3 linked regions of the Homo sapiens genome follow. The protein of the gene in region 3 interacts with the protein of the main gene of each other region in a pairwise test. Each region holds a gene or a part of one and is shown on either strand. Other genes may lie near its edges.

Region 1 (3,140 bases), on a different chromosome or scaffold from region 3:
GGAAAAGGACAGTTAAGAAATCCTTCCATAAATTTGAATAATTAGGCCAATTTGGATAATTCAGCCTTTAAAAAAAACAATTATTTCCATCAGTAATTTATTGGTGGGGGGGTGTGGCTCTCCATTATCAATATTATTCTCCAGTTTGGTTTACTGAGGAGGTTCAAGAAGCCAGCATCAGAAATAAATATAAAATGCATAGGGTGTCAGATCATTTTATTTTGCCAAGTTTTAAAAATTTACACTAACAAGTAATTAGCACACTCAGGGCACAAAAATCTTATGTTTTTTGGTTTTTTTGCAATACCTGTATAGAAATCATCTACAGCACATGTTTCTCCCGATTATATACTTCTCTTCCATCTGCCTTTTTTTTTTTTTTTCAATGCTCAGGAGAGAAAGGAGAGTTTATTTCACACAGGTTTTCATTAAAAAGGTGAGGTCAGATCACCTGGAGGTTATTCACTAGCGCTCTACCCCAAATCATTCTTCTAGGAAAAATAAGCCCCAAACATCATATTATTGTAGACTAGTCTGTTTTTATTTACAATTTAAGATATAAATTAGTAAAGAATTCGTGTTAAACAACCAACAAAGATTGTATAACCAGCAATGTTCAAATAAAAACCAGGCAGAATTTATTTACAAAAAGTTTAGATTCCATTGCAATACAACTTGCATAAATTACTAGAAGCTTTATATCATTATAAAAATAAATATCAAATTTGTTTCCACTTCTGAAGTACTCAAGTTCTTCCATCACGTTTTATTTCTACTGTGTACATCTTTTACAAATAAACTTTACAGTAAATCCTATCACACCTATAGAATATATACCGTGGCAATGAAGTGATCAATTCAAGATATCCTGAGAAAAACAGATTGTTTTCAAAAGTCACACATACATCGGGGAAACTATACTATGCCAACAAATTCACATATGTCCAACAATAGTCTGTTCCAATTGTTAGAGTCTGTGGGCTGACAGTGCTGTGTGGATCCTTCTCTTTTACAGTGGCACAAGATGTGGTCTGGATTTAGACATCTGTTTGTTGTATCTGTAAATTTATGAGCTTGGGAAGAGAGAATGGCCTGCTGACTTTTTTTTTTTTTTTTTTTTCAAAGCAATTGTGACACCTACCTGTGGACCAAGGAAAAAACCAAATCATCCCCAATCTTTCAGTTCCACAACAACACCATTATAAAAACGAGTTGATCTGAAGTGGTTCCAAATCTTTCTTATCTTCAAGATCTATGATTAGTAATTCTGACTCGTTGCAAAGCAACATATTTTTTGAGATACTGTTGTGAGCCCCGGGAGAATGTCAGAGTCCTGTCCACTTGGACATGGGTGGAGGGGAGGTTGGACAGGGCTGATAAAAGACTAGTACGCCTCGTGTCTCTTCAGTCTTATTTTGCAAACATCATCTATAAAGGTTTTTGCTACTCCAAGTTTTGGTAGCCCAAGCTCATCAAAGCATGTGTCTATTATGTGTCTAGCATAGTAAAAATGGCTCTAAATTGCATATAAATGCCCAGATTTTAATAATCTATTGTTTCAAAAGAAAACAACAGTAGTGTGTAATATATATATACACATGTACTATATATATACATGTACTATATATATACATATATATATTACACACACACACACACACATATATATATATATTTTTTTTTTCCTTCCCTAGGTAAAGGAGTGATAGAACTTGTGCCAAAAAGAGGGAATCTATAAAACAGAAAATATAGTTTCCCCCTTAAGGAAAGAAAAGCTGGACAAGATTGAAATGCTCTGTCTTCTAACCCCATGACCAGAAGCAAGAAAAACACATTAAGCAAGTTGGTGCTGGGAGGCTCCACAGGGTCTGGGAAGCACCAGGGTGCCCACTTACTTGCATTGCTGTGCTCGGCCCTTCTATAGGTAGGGCTGGACGCCCCCGCCAACCACGGTGCAGCCCTCGCTGGCATCTGTCAGGGGAGTGGGCAGTTAGTCAGAACCGACCCCACAGCCTGCTGGCTGCGCAGACCACCGTGCACCCACCATCCTCCACTCCCAGGCAAACAGCAGTTTGGGAAACCGACTGTCTCCAGGGCCGCTATCTGAGACGACTTTTGGTGATGGTCCCTAGTTCTTAACTTCCCCCCTTGAACTCCTCTTTCGGGTAGCCTGACTTAGGAGCAACACAGGCAACATAGCACAGGGGAAAAAACGGTTTTCTTTCCGAACAACGACAACAACAAAAAGCGGAAAAAACATTTGATTTTATCTTTTGAAGACAAAACGCCTCTGAGAGTAACTGGAACGTTCTGTTTGCCTCTAGCCAACGGCAGAAAAGCGGATTCAACTCTGACTCCTTAACAAGACACCGAAACACACCCAGGCTCATTAGGGCGACACGCTGTAATTTGAATTTCGTGGCAATCTGGGTTTGCCGAAACTAAGACAGCCACGATAGTAATAGTCAAAATAACAGTAAATTAAGTAAAAATAAATAATAACAGGGCAAGTCTAAAAAGAGGGCCACACCTTCTTTGGCTTCCATCTCGCCCTCCGCCCTCACTCTGCTAATTCTGGGTCCCAGGAGTGGCCCCCTGGATCTTCTTCCCGGACCCTCCCTCGGGTCTCCCGGGCGCTCCGCCTCCCCGGGGCTGGCTCTCCCTCCCCTCCCGGGCGCCGCCGGCCGCGGGCCGCCTACCTTTCTTGGGCTCGTAGCCGCCGCCCGGGGACCGGTAGTGGGACTCGAGCGGGTGCGCGCCCGCCTTGCCCGCGTCGCTGGCCGCCTTTGGCGCGGTGTGCAGGGCCTCGCCGGGGGCCGCGGCCGCAGAGTTGTACCGCAGGAGACCCTGGCCCTGCAGCGCCGCGTTCAAGTTCCCGTAGTTTGTGTAGTTGCCGTAGAAGGGCGACGTGTAGTAGAGGGGGCGGCCCAGCAGCGGCGAGGCAGGGTAGGGCGAGCCTCCTGGCGGTGCCCCGGTTGAGGCCGGCGCGGCGGCCGCGGGCAGCCCCGGTGGCCCGCAGCCCGGGCCCAGGCTCGGCTGCTTGAGGTCCGACGTGGCGATCTCGGCCAGCGACCACAGCTTGGGCTTGCTGGCGGGGGGCGGCGCGCCCGGAGACGTCCGGCTGCCCTGGGGCGTCTTGC
Region 2 (7,127 bases), on a different chromosome or scaffold from region 3:
ACAAAAGGGGAAAGTCGCTGTCTAACAGAGTATCAACAACAAAAAGTCAAAATGGAGAAAAAGTGAAAACTTGAATAAAGTAAGTTCATTCATTTCTAGTATTTCTATTTCTAAAGAACTTAAAATGCATCCTCAAATAAACTTTTATCAAGCACAAACAAAGTAATTAGCATTAAAAGAATTAGCAGTGAATGTTTCAACTGTACGCAAGTGTCCCCAAATCCCACAACGTAAAACAACACAAATATCTATCAAATGATGAATCAATGAACAAAATGTGGTATGTCCACATAATAGAATATTATTCACTAATAAAAAGGAATGATGTAGTGATATGTGCTAGAACACGGATGAACCTTGAACACATTAGCTAAGTGAAAGAAGCCCATCTCAAAAAGCTGCATATTGTGTAATTCCATTTCTATGAAATGTCCAGAGTAGGCAAATCCATAGAGATAGACAGCAGATTTGTGGTTATGAGGGGCTGGGGGAAGGGGAAAATGAGGAGAGACTGCTATGGGTACATGGGTACAGGGTTTCTTTTGGGGTTGATGATAACGTCCAGGGATTAAAAGGTGGTTATTGTTGCATAATTCTATAAAAATACTAAAAACCATTGAATTGTGTATTTTAAAAGAGTGAATTTTATGGTATATAAATTATGTCTCAATAAAACTATTATTTTAGAAAAAAAGTGCATGACACATAATTTTCATTTCCCAAGGAACACATTTGAATCCCATGCGCTAGAAGCTGCCATCTGGGAGTGGGTCGGGTGGTTAGTGAGTGAATCTGGCTAAATGACCAGCAGCCACATCTCAGAACAGTGTCACTGTTCTCTACTCATTGAAGTTTACCCAAGGACTCTCATGAAATAATACAAACTTTTGTTTCTCTGGAAGAAAGATAGATGGCAACCAATAAAAGAGGATCCTTTTTTTTTTTTTTTTAATTAAGAAATAGAGTCTCACTCTGTCTCCAAGGCCGAAATGCAATGACTCACTGCAGCTTCTACCTCTGAGGCTGAAGTGATTCCCCCACATCAGCCTCTTGAGTACCTGGGACTCAGAGGAGTGCACAACCATGGCTGACTAGCTAAGAAAATATATATATTTTCTAGAGATGGGGTCTCATTATGCTGCCCAGGCTGGTCTCAAACTCCTGGGGTCAAGCAGTGCTCTCACTTCAGCCTCCCAAAGTGCTGGGATTACAGGCATGAGCCACCACACCCAGCAGAGAATTCTTTGAAAGGGGCTTACTTGTGGTGTAAGAATCTGCATAGCAGCCCATGTGCGATGGCTCACGCCTGTAATCCCAGCACTTTGGGAGGCCAAGGCAGGCGGATCACCTGAGGTCAGGAGTTCAAGACCAGCCTGGCCAACATGGTGAAACCCTGTCTTACTAAAAATAGAAAAATTAGCCAGGCGTGGTGGCGGGTGCCTGTAATCCCAGCTACTCAGGAGGCTGAGGCAGGAGAATCGCTTGAACCTGGGAGTCAGAGGTTGCAGTGAGCTGAGATCATACCACTGCACTCCAGCTTGGGGGACAAGAGTGAAACTCCATCTTAAAAAAATAAAAATAAAAAGAATTTGCACAGTAAACCTAGATCTAGACAAAGCTAGAAGCCTGCACAAGTATTTGAGGATTTAGGGATTCATAGAGCTATCCCTAAAGAATTCTGGGGGTCTAGTACACCAAAAGCAGGAGGGTATGGATAGTGGTATAGAAAGCAAAATATCTCTAAAAATTCATTTGAAAGTAATTCAGTATACAGTATAAGAAGTAAACAAAAGAAAACCAAATGAATTAAATAAAACAGATTTTCTGAGAACGTACCTTAAGGTCCTTCCAAGCCTCGGATTTTATATAGTTAAACATACGTCACTACAAACTTTCAACTCAGGGAGCCCAACCACAGCAACACAATTGAGCCTTACAATTAAAGTCAGATACAATTACAGTTCAGGGAATTCTCATTCCCTTTTGCCCTTGGGACTTAATGGCTTGTTCAGCTTGTTCAAGATCACTAAGCCATCCTAGACCAGCCTTAAAGGCTTTGACTTCTAAACCCATCATTCTGAATGCCTCCCTCCACAAGATCAATGCCTTACATACCTTCTGGAATTTGATTAGAAACAAAAGAATTATTTGGAATCACTGTTTTATGACAGGCAGGATTATTTATTCTGGTCCTAGAGGGTACTGGCAGAAAGTTCACAGGAGGGTCACTATACTTGTGGTGGGTATTCGTTAGTAACTTGACTATTTCCGACTCTTCCTCTAAAAGGGTTATCAAAGAATATACGACAGGTTCCGAAGTTTCCGCAAATGTCAAGGCCTTGTCATAAAGAAACTCAGAAATATGTAAACGACAAGCCAGAGGTAGGTTCTCATTGGTGGAATAAAATGCCACGAGCGGAGCTTGGTAGGGATATTTGTGGTCTTTAGAAAATCGAATTTCAAGTTCATATAAAAAAGATGCATCTTCAATAGCATTAAGATGAGAATCATCTACACTTCTTTCTATTCTTCCAACAATTTGATTTGGGGGCACTTCATGTTTGAATCTGCATTTTGATCCAAATTTACAATTTCCTTTGAGGTAAAATTTACAGATTTCAAGTGAATTCTCTTGTACATTTTTGGTACTTTCTTTTGGCTTGGATTTGCGGAATCTACTTGTCAGATACTCCAGTTCTAACCCAATGGTCCAGACTCTGTTCTGAATTCTTTCTATAAATTTTTCTCCACAGATGGACTTGAGAGCAAATGCCTCTTCCTGTCGCTGTTCCATACACTCATCCAAGCTTATCTGGTTGACTGCCTCAGAGATCTTCATCCTCTCTCCAAATGTCTCTGAAAAACACTGGGTAAGGAGATGCTCTAGTGATGCTCCCACATCTCCATCACACATCCTCAGGACCGCTTGACAGCGTTCAGTATTGAAACCATACCTGTCAAGGGCAAAACATGACAAAAATGACACATAAAAAGCAGTATCACACCATTACAGTAAAATTCATTTAAATATGCTTAGATGAAGTTATGACTACACATAGGCAGGGCTTGTATTTTGAAAAAGCATCCCTGATAACAATAAGCCCCCCTGAATGACCCCTTCTGATAAGATAGAATATTAGGCCTATCAGGCATTGCTGGAACCCACATAATAGGAAAGTACACAAAGAGGGGTAGTGGGTTTATATGATTTCGGTTTCCTTGAATTCTTTCCCAACTCCCATAAATGATCAAAGCAATCACCTGGAAAGTTTTTGCACTGCAAATGGGGAGACTGTAAATTCTGGAACATAAGGCTCCACTGAGGCTAAGCCAGCATATTCCAAAGGATCCAAGTCGGGAACGAGGGAAGGTTCCTGTCCAGCTGGCCAGTACCGCTCATCGTTACAGCAATCAGGCTCATCATCTTCCTCCTCCCCAGAAAGGCCTCTTCTAGCAAAGGCAACATTTTCATATATTAGATATTACTTTCTACTTACTTCAAAGAAAAATTTAGCAAAGGTCTAAGAATTTAATTCATAGGATCCTGACTACTCTTCAGTTGCTGATTTAATCTTATATTGAACTATTAATTTATATCTTGGCAATTAACATTTACCAGGCATTTATTAAATACCAGTTACTGTGTTAAGTGCTTTATATGAACTAACTCCTTTAATCTTCCCAATAACTGTACCAAATACTACTGGAATGTCCTTTTTTTTTTTTTTTTCTAGATGATCAACTAAAACTCAGAGAGGATTAGTAACTGCCTAGGTTACACATTAAGGAGCAAATAGAGATTTTGCCAAAGGCAGACAGATTCCTGTGTTCTTAACCACAGAAACCTTGGCTATTCTCTCTCTTCTCATTCATAAAAACACTATCCCTAATTGTTTGTTTTGCTACATAATCTCCCTTTCTAAATCTAAAACAGATAAGAGATTTGTAGATAGGATGGAAAATGAGCTGTTCATGACTGGCCACTAATTAATTTTGGTAAATGGAAAGAAGGAATTAACTTCTCCAACTGAAATCCAAAGCAAAAGAGCCGAAATGCAGTAGAGTGGGAAACGAATAAGATTTAAGAGTAAAAGCTTTCTCTTAGGCAGACAGTCATGACAAGCAAATCCTAAGACTGCACCTGACCGAGTCAATATTTGCTCATTCAACACTACTTCTACTTGTTCATTACAAGGGTTTATCTGGAAGGTTACAGATAAATCAGTTACTGAATCCATATGAGCACTGCCCTGGAAAAAAATAAAGATAAAAAGGCAATCCCATGGATGTTGCAAAACAAACTCACTCTAAAATTGTGGCTGAATAATTATTCTTGTATTACTCTTGGCTCACTTTCAACTAATTAAATGGCCACAATAGAATCAGTACTGACACAGCATTCCAAAGATGCACAGGACCTTCACACTGCCAGTATGTTTTCCTTAATATAATAATTGACTCAAATAAAACAATTTACTCAGATCCAGCATCAGCATCTTGTTCTTGCAGGTCTCGGAGAAGAGCTTTCACTTTCTCTTGATTCTCAGAAGTCATATGTAGAGTCTGAAGGGGTACTTTGGCTTTGGGTTTCCATTTTGGGCGTGACTCTCCTTTGCTTATGTTACTGTTGCTAGGTCTATAGAGAACAAAAGAGCAAAATTACACACATATCTTCAATCAGAACTTTTACACTCTCCTCAGGGGTCCCCAGATATACACAATACAAACTGGATTGTCAAGTATCTTACAAAAGATGACAATGAATGTGAGGAGATTCTCCATTTTCTATAGTATTTACCAGACTTCATTATATCAGACCTGCTGGAAAAAAACCTTATCAGATTCTTGGCCAGGCGCAGTGGCTCACGCCTGTAATCCTGGCACTTTGGGAGGCCGAGGCTGGCGGATCACCTGAGGTCAGGAGTTTCAGACCAGCCTGGCCAACATGGTGAAATGCTGTCTCTACTAAAAATACAAAAATTATCTGGGCGTGGCAGTGCGCTCCTGTAATCCTAGCTACTCAGGAGGCTGAGGCAGGAGAATCACTTGAACTTGGAGGTAGAGGTTGCAGTAAGCCAAGATTGTGCCACTGCACTACAGCCTGGGCAACAGAGCGAGATTCCGTTTAAAAAAAAAAAAAACAACAAAACTTAACAGATTCTTAATCATTAATTCTGGCTTCACTAACTCAAGAATCCTTAGGAAAAAGCAATGCTAATGATGGTTTCCTCTGCACTATAGGACATGAAGAGCATTTCATTTCATTCTGCATTAAAATCTGAAAACCACTGAGTTTCATTCTTCCTTGTGAATATTAAGGCCCCATTTCTAAAATACCCAATTATCTTTATTTCTGATTATTAAAAAAAAAAAAAAAAAGGCCAGGGGCATTGGCTCACACCTGTAATTCCAGCACTTTAAGAGGCTGAAGTGGTAGGATTGCTTAAGCCCCAGGAGTTCGAGACCAGCCTGGGCAATATAGCAAGATCCTGTCTCTATTTAAAAAAAAAGAAATAAAAAAATTACACAGCATATATAATCTCTTATGATTTGTCTGATCATTAGGAAATGATCAGTTAAACATGAGGGGGAGTTGGGAGTTTCACATGCTCCTATCTTAAAGTCATCCTTTATCTTAAAGTCAGCCTTTCTATTTGTAAACTATATGCCAATCTCTTTAATCTCCTCAAGGAAATCATTCCAGCACTTATCCCCCTTTCTAAATCACTGGTTTTTCATTCTTCTTTGGATCATTCCCATCAGCATACAGACATACTATAAGGTCTACCCTCTTAAAAAAATGAAACCAAGCCAAATCCTCCCTTGAGTGCACATCTCCCTGTAGCTACTGACCCATCTCTCCTCCCTCTAGCTCCCTTATAGTAAAACTTCTCATTTAGGTTATCAAAATCATTGTCTCTGTCTCCATTTTCTTTCCTCTTCTCTCTGAAACACAACCCAATCAGTATTTCCTATGCTACTACAGCTCTTGTCAAGGTTAACCATGATACCCACATTGTCAAATGCAGTGGACAATTCTTAGTGCACATTTTCCTTGACCTACCAGAAGCATTTTTCCACAAATGTGTACCCTCTTTAAGCATACAATTCGATCTTATTGGCTACTCTCCTTTAAAACACCTTTGTCCCTTGGCTTCCAAAAACCACTCTCTTAGTTTCCTACTTCATTGGCAGCTCCTTCTCAATCCCCTTTGTTTTTCATACTTTCTCTTAGCTTTATTTATTTTTTAACTAAAAATTTTTATTGACACATAATAATTGTACATTCTTTATACGGTTGATAATGGTTTGGCTGCAAGTCAAATCTCATCTTCAATTGAAGTTCCCATAATCCCCACATGTTATGGGAGGGAACCGGTTGGAGGTAGTTGAATCATGGGGGCAGTCTCCCCCATGCTATTCTCGTGATAGTGAGTAACTTCTCACGAGATCTGATGGTTTTATAAGGGGTGTCCCCCTTTACTTGGCTCTCATTCTTCTTTCTCCTGCCACCTTGTGAAGAAGGATGCTTTTGCTTCCCCTTTCAGCATGATTGTAAGTTTCCTGAGGCCACCCCAGCCCTGTGGTACTGTGAGTCAATTAAACCTCTTTCCTTTATAAATTACTCAGTCTTGGGTATGTCCTTATAGCAGCGTGAGAATGGACTAATACAGGGGTACATGTGCTATTTTGATACATGCATACAATGTGTAGTGATCAAATCAGGGTAATTAGGATATCTAACACCTCACACATTTATCATTTCTTTGTGTTGGGAACATTCCAAATTCTCTTAGCTTTAAAACCTAGAGTGTCCCAGGGCTCAAACATCAGATACCTTCTCTATTCGATTTTATCCAGACTCAGAACTTTAGCATTTATCTATAGAAGACTCACACATTTACATCTCCAGCCTAGATCTTTTTCTTGAACCTCAGATTTATATATTAAATTATCTATTTTATATCTACACTTGGAGAACATCTCCTAACTGGTCTCCTTGCTTTCAACTCATGCCCCTTTATAGTTTATTCTCTACAAAGCACACCCAGTCAATGCTATTGAGTATAGATTCATAGACTGTACACTGCACAAAGGTTCCTGGCTGGGAGGGAAGAAGAGGGAGG
Region 3 (7,127 bases):
AAAGAGGGGAGATCACAAGGGATGACTGGACAACCAAAGGTGTCCATTAACAGGAAACTAGATATAAAAACCATGGTAAAGGCTTGCAATGCAATACCAAACCAGTTATATTCTACAGATATCCTTGCCTATCTGCAAAATAATGTGTACCGACATTCTTTGCAGCATTGCTTGTAGTAGCAAAAAAAATCAGAAACAATCTGAACGTCCAATCTATCAATAGGGAACTGGTTACATAAATTATGATAAGTCCATAAAATGACTCAACTTTTCAAAAATGAGGCTTTTTGTGTACTTACAGGGAACATGCTCCTAAGAGACAGGAAGTAGAAAAAAAGCAAGGAGGCAGAATAGTGGATGTAGACTAGGACTCTATGTGAAAAGGGGAAAAATATATGTATGTTTGCTTGTATATGGCTAAAATATTTCTGGAAGGACATACAAGAAACTGATACCAGTGGCTGCCTATGCGAAAAAGAACCGAACAGCTTATAGATGGGTGTCATGGAGAATTTTCATCGTATAAGTTTTGGTACTTTTTGAATTTTGAATTACGTGAAAGTATTTCATTTTTTAAACATTACATTTAAATAATTTTAAATGATACAATAAAGAGAAAATAAAATATACCTAAACGTGCAGTCTGGGCACAGTGGTGCATGCCTGTAATCACAGCACTATGGGAGGGTGAGGCAGGAGGATCATTTGAGCCCAGGAGTTTCAGACCAACCTGAACAACATAGCGAGACCTTGTCTCTACAAAATCTTAACCATTAGATGGGCATGGCAGCATGCACCTGTAGTCCTAGCTACTCAAGAGGCTAAGGCAGGATTACTTGAGCCCAGGAATTTGAAGTTGCAGTGAGCTGTGATCGCACCACTGCACTCCATCCTGGGTGACAGAGCAAGACTCCGTCTCTAAATAAATAAATAAACTTCCTTATCTAGAACAAATTTCCAAGATATACAGGGCTAAGTCAAAAAAGGAAGTTCAATACAGTACATGTGATACAATCTGTTTTGAAAATAAAAAAGAAAGAGAATATACATGTTTGAATGTCTTAGGAAGGATACACAAAAACCAACCCACCAGCTGCCTTTGGGGAGAGGAATAGTGACTTCGAGTGTGAGGATCATTCATTCTTCACTGCATGCCAGTATGTACCACTTGAATTGCTTGTCATATAAACCAGTAACACTTTAAGAAATGTTTTAATGGTATGGCACTTCAGTGTCCCTTGGTTTACCTGATCCTATATGGTTGAAAAGTGGCTCAGAATCCAGGAACTGCAATTCACAGCTCCAGAGCATATTCAGAATCAACTCAGCACCCACTGTTTGCCAGGCTCTGCATAAGCTGTGTCATTAACCTTGATCTCCAGACAAGGAAAGGAGTCTAAAAAAAAGGCAGCCCCCTCACCCTAGCAGAGGCTGAATTTAAACAGGCCTTCGGAAGACCTATGTTCAGTCAGGTATGCAACAGCTGTCTCTCTCTCGTACAGCACTCTGTGATCCTTTCTACCTGGAGGGTATCAAACACACCCCCTGCCCACATCCCACATATGCATGCTCAAGAGTGCTCGTGCCTATGTGGGTTACTGTCAACCTCCTGTGATGGAACTGACGTGGTAATGTAGAGAGGGAGGTGCTGAGTGATCCACTTTTCATTTCCCTCATTTTGCAGGTGAGGAAACTGAGGCCCAAAGAGGTCTAGCAACTCACCTAAGATCACACAGTAAATTATATGTGATGAGTCAGGGCTCCTGCCTCCTGACCCAGGACCTTTCCTGCAGCCGCCCACTGGCAACCAGATCATCATTAAGAAAGTCTAAGAAGGCCGGGTGCAGTGGCTCATGCCAGTAATCCCAATACTTTGGGAGGCTAAGGTGGAGGGACTGCTTGAGGCCAGGAATTTGAGATCACCCTGCACAACACAGGGAAGAGATCCTGTCTCTAGGAAACATGCAAAAATTAGCGGGTGTGGTGGTGGTACATGCCTGTGATCCTAGCTACTCAGGAGGCTGAGGCAGGAGGATCACTTGAGCCCAGGAGTTTGAGGCTGCAGTTAGTTATAATCACGCCACTATACTCCAGCTTGGGCAAAAGTGAGACCCTGTCTCAAAAAAAAAAGAAAAAAAAGAAAGCCTAAGAGTATGGCCTTGACTGGAGTTCCCTTAACTTATAGGAGCACACAGAGAATCTAAGCACTCCTGAGGACCACAGAATTGTCAAGAGGGCAATCCTGACTACCATGCTACCCTGTTGCCTATTTTAGTCCCTTCCTATTAACTGTTTTCCAGATGAGGAACTGAGGCTTTGTGGTCATCTTGTTCATGTATTTACTTGTTTACTGTCTGTACCCACTATTAAGACCATAAACCCAAGGAGGACCAGCACCCCCATCTGTCTGGCTCACTACTCCGCCCCTTGCACCGAGCACTGTGCCTGGTACAGAGCAAGAGCTCAATAATGTTGGATAGATGAATGGATGGTTGGATGACTGTGCATCAGGCCAATCTATCTCATTTCTTTTTTTTTGAGACGGAGTCTCGCTCTGTCGCCCAGGCTGGAGTGCAGTGGTGTGATCTCGGCTCACTGCAAGCTCTGCCTCCTGGGTTCACACCATTCTCCTGCCTCAGCCTCCCGGTAGCTGGGACTACAGGCGCCTGCCACCGCGCCCAGCTAATTTTTTTTGTATTTTTAGTAGAGACGGGGTTTCACCGTGGTCTCGATCTCCTGACCTCGTGATCCGCCTGCCTTGGCCTCCCAAAGTGCTGGGATTACAGGCGTGAGCCACCGCACCCGGCTGATCTATCTCATTTCTAAAGGGCAAGTTCATGGTTCCTCTAATGCGAAAAGGATAAAATCAAAATTGCTCTTTTTTGTTTTTTTTGAGACAGTCTTGCTCTGTCACCCAGGCTGGAGTACAGTGGCACAATCTCAGTTCACTGCAACCTCCTTCTCCTGGGTTCAAGTGATTCTCCTGCCACAGAGTCCCAAGTAGCTGGGACTACAGGCATGTGCCACCACACCCAGCTAATTTTTAAAAAATTTTTAGTAGAGATGGGGTTTCACCATGTTGGCCAGGCTTGCCTCAAACTCCTGGCCTCAAGTGATCCGCCCGCCTCAGCCTCCCAAAGTGCTGGGATTACAAGTGCGAGCCACCACGCCTGGCCCAAAATTGCTTTTGACCATGCCTCCCCATCCTCACCAAAGCAACCAAAGCTGCTCTTCTCTATCTGCCTTATGTCAGGGCTTTTACGTTTAATTTCACTTTAAGTAGGGGTTCTTGGGCTTACAAGTTTCAGAAAAGCAGCTGCCCCAGTGGGCAACAGGGAGACAGACATAGTTAAATGAGTAAGTAGCAGGCTGATTCAGTAGAAGAGGCACTGCAGGACCTCTGAAGCTGTGTGACCTTGGGTAAGTTATGTCCCTACTCTGAACCTCTACTTTAAAATTTACAGACTGGGCCAGAAGGTCTACTTTTCCTTCTAAAGTTCGAATACTGATTCCTAACTTCTAGCTAAAATTCTGACCATCACCTGACAAAGGTGAGGAAAGCAATATTTAAAAAAAAATGTTCAGGGCTAAGTGCGGTGGCTCATGCCTGTAATCTCACTGCTTTGGGAAGCCAAGGCAGGAGGATCACTTGAGCCCAGGAGTTTGAAACCAGCCTGGGGAACACAGCCACACCCCCATATCTACAAAAAATTAAAAACAACCAGGTGCGGTGGTTCAAGCCTGTAATCCTAGTTACCTGGGAGAATGAGTCAAGAGAATCACTTGAGCCCAGGAATTGGAGGCTGCAGTGAGCTGATTGCACCACTGTACTCTAGCCTGGATGACAGAGCAAGACTCCCATTTCTTAAAAAAACAAACAAACAAACAAACAAAACTCAAGGCTGCCTGACATTGGCACCCAGATCGTCACTAAGAAGGTGTAAGAAGGCCAGGTGCAGTGGCTCACGCCAGCAATCCCAATACTTTGGGGAGGCAACCCATCAGATTCTAGTGTCTGAATCAAGCAATCTGAATCATTTTTTAGTGAGTGACTTCAACTGTTTGGCATTCAGGGTATACTTGTAGGACAAATTAACCTCCACTCTTCTGCCACAGATTAAAAACCCACACTAGGCAGAGTCTCTCTGCTTTTTCCCTCTGGGAACCTCAGGGCAGGAAGAGATATGAGAGTGTCACCTACCTATACAGCTTGTATTTGGAAGCAAAAGCCTTGCCACAGTGCAGCTGAGGGCAGCTATATGGTCTCTGCTCTGGTTGCGGGAGGCTGTGAGGCCTCAGCTTCTCCCCATTTGAGAAAGGTGTTCCCGAAATTTCACATTGGCACTTCACTTGACTCTCCGCCTCCCGGCCCCGAGGCCTGGGAACTAGTTTCCAGCCCACTTCCTCCTCCTGCTTTGCATCTTGAATCCAGGGGGGGACGCTGGTGAAAAATGTGGTCATGGCAAGGCTAATGGCAAAGGGCCATGTTATTGAGAAAGCCTCCCCATCCGCTCCACACAGGCTCTCAGCTCTGTCACAGCCTCCAACGCAGCTTTCAGAAAACAATCTCTTCACCTGAAACATCAGAACACCTGGTGTTAGGGAGCCCAATACCATGAGAACATGGGCTCTGGAAGCAGACAGATCCCGTTCCAATCCCAGCCCTTCCACTTAGAAGCTGTGTGACTTTCAGCCAATTACTTACTTCCCTGAGCTGTTTCCTCATTTATAAAATGGGCATAATAATCTCCTAAATTATAAAAATGTTTTGAGGATTAAATGAGATCATGAATATAAAGCATTCAGCAGAAGGCTGGGCATCCATTAAGTGCTTAGTGGTAGCTACTATTACTAGTACCATCTAGGCTAATAAGAAACAAGATAAACTGAGGAACCAAAAGCCCCAAAACTTCAAACTTTTTCTTCTGGACCTCACTTTTATATCCTTTCCATTGAACCTAGAGATAGCGGTTCCTCCTTCTTATTACCCTGGCACCTCCTCGTCCACTACTTTCCACAATTGTCCTCCTCATGGAGGTGCTAAGGAGCAATAAAATGCCCAAAAGGCAAGAGAGGAGGAAGGGGAAGCCTCTACTTAGGAAATTTACATCCTAGTCAGTCCTGGTACCAGATGTGTTTCTTAGCAGTGCATCAACATCAGGAGGGTCTATATGGGAAGGCAACAGCAGATTCTTAGCATTTTCCCTAAACCAGGACTAGAACTGGTCCCATCCTGACCACCACCACTTCTCTGGGTCACTGTGTCTCAGGGCCCAGACCATCCCTCTTTAGCAAAGCCTGTCCAACACCCCTAGGTGCTGAGAGGCCCCTCCTACAGGGCCTCAGAGTACATATGCACATCTCCTTTAGAAGACGGTAGCGAGCTCGCATTGGAATTTACTCCTCTCCACCAGCCTGATTGTCTGAGGGCTTGCATCATCTCTCTTTCATCTCTATATACCTAATATCTAGAAAAGGAACCCTAACTTTATTTCAGATAGGTAAACTAGTCACTGAATGCAGGTTGATTCTCAGGGACCAACCTAGGCCCAGGTAGTTCTGGTTTAAACTGGGTTCGCAGCCATTCCCAAGTGGGGAGCCGAAATCTTAAAGTCTGATTCTTTCTCTTGTTGAATAGAAGGGGAGATGTGCAAGAACGACACAACTCCATTCCAGATACTAATCCAGAGGAAGAGGATGGGAGTTACCACACTGACTCTCAAAAGGGGACAAGAGACCCACATTCATACTCCCAAGCTTACCACAGATTACCAACCACGATGCAACCTGCTACAACAGGGGGATTCCCTTTGAAGAGATGGTGCCAAAATTTGATCATGAGGCTTTTCCATGTGAAGAGAGAAAAGGGGGTGTCTGGGGATTATCCACGAGAATCTGGGGAGGGCTCCAACTGCACAAACTAGCTGTGGGCCACAGAATGCTTGCTCAGCTCATTAGCACCTGCTGCTTACAGTGACCATTCATCCAACAGACTGGCCGTGAACAAGATGATGGGATCAGCGGGTTCATGCCCCAGAGAGCTTTGCTCATCATTAACATGAGCTACGTCCTGTTCAGGAACCATTCCTCTTGTTGAAGAAACACTGCGATGTAATATGATAAACACGTCCCCATCACGAGTGTAGATTTGTCTAGAAAGATCTGCATTAAGGTGGCTGCATTTTGCATGAATCACATGCTGGGGAGGGGTAGGTAGCACTAAAAACTAGTCCCACTTGAGCCTTCAAGTCATTATGGCATATGTGCCTGCTTCACTATAAACCTCAAAGGCCTGTGACGTCTGGCTTTCATTGTTTAAGTCCCCTCCTCCTTTGCAAGGGTGGAATTACCTGTTTGTAATACCAGCAATTACTATGCACCTTGGAATTGAGCAGAGAGTGTGCTCGAGTGTGCATGTTTAGATTGGAGGGAATTACCCCTACCTTCAAAGTCAAATTCTACTCCCCCTTCAATTTGAAATCATGCACCTCAGCCTCTGGAAAGTTGGGAATGGCAGCCAGAAGGAAACAAGTCACATCAATTTGGCTGATGTGAGAGAGGAGCCTAGCCCTGGAAACTCCACACAAACTCAGAAAGAGAACATTACGTCCCCACCTCCCACACGTCCACCTCATCTGTTCTCCTGAACAAGCACAAACAAGACACAATAGTTTAGTAGGCTGCTACTGAAAGAGTGAGTAATGGGCTTCTAGGAAAGAGGCTGGTGGTGGCTAAGGAGCTTGTACTGATAGAACCAAAGGAGGAAAGCAGCAGCCATGTGCTCACCTTGATCTGCTTTTAATGGGGCTATGTCTTCACAAAGAAAAGAGCCAACACCCTGATCCTACTCTCCTACACTTTTCAAAAGGCACAGGAAGTCCCTACCTACAGTCACCAGCAGCCTCTTGGATAACCAAAGCTGCTAGTGTTACCTAGGAACCCTTTTGGGGATCTAGTCTCTCTCTGCCCTTTGTCTGAAAACTCCTCTGATCCAGAAAGATTCCTGGGTTTGTCTTACATAAGCAGAAGGCCTGTTCCTTCAGACTTGTCCTTCCTCAGCAAAACTGTGAAAGAATTCTACTTCTCTTTCAAAGCTGCTCTTCTGGTCTCACATTTTAATCTTAACA

The links.
Region 1: the proteins of PLAGL2 (region 3) and IRX2 interact in binary tests that used the Homo sapiens proteins (3 or more experiments, as listed by UniProt).
Region 2: the proteins of PLAGL2 (region 3) and DHX57 interact in binary tests that used the Homo sapiens proteins (3 or more experiments, as listed by UniProt).

What each region holds. Positions count from the first base shown.
Region 1 is NC_000005.10:2,745,646-2,748,785, forward strand, and holds the end of IRX2 (iroquois-class homeodomain protein IRX-2), read right to left. Parts: coding exon 2,700-3,140; intron 1,972-2,699; coding exon 1,919-1,971; 3' UTR 520-1,918; downstream 1-519.
Region 2 is NC_000002.12:38,858,884-38,866,010, forward strand, and holds part of DHX57 (putative ATP-dependent RNA helicase DHX57), read right to left. Parts: intron 4,637-7,127; coding exon 4,478-4,636; intron 3,451-4,477; coding exon 3,262-3,450; intron 2,955-3,261; coding exon 2,116-2,954; intron 1-2,115. UniProt on the Homo sapiens protein: Probable ATP-binding RNA helicase.
Region 3 is NC_000020.11:32,197,718-32,204,844, forward strand, and holds part of PLAGL2 (zinc finger protein PLAGL2), read right to left. Parts: exon of another isoform or gene 5,763-7,127; intron 4,576-5,762; 5' UTR 4,462-4,575; coding exon 4,202-4,461; intron 1-4,201. UniProt on the Homo sapiens protein: Shows weak transcriptional activatory activity.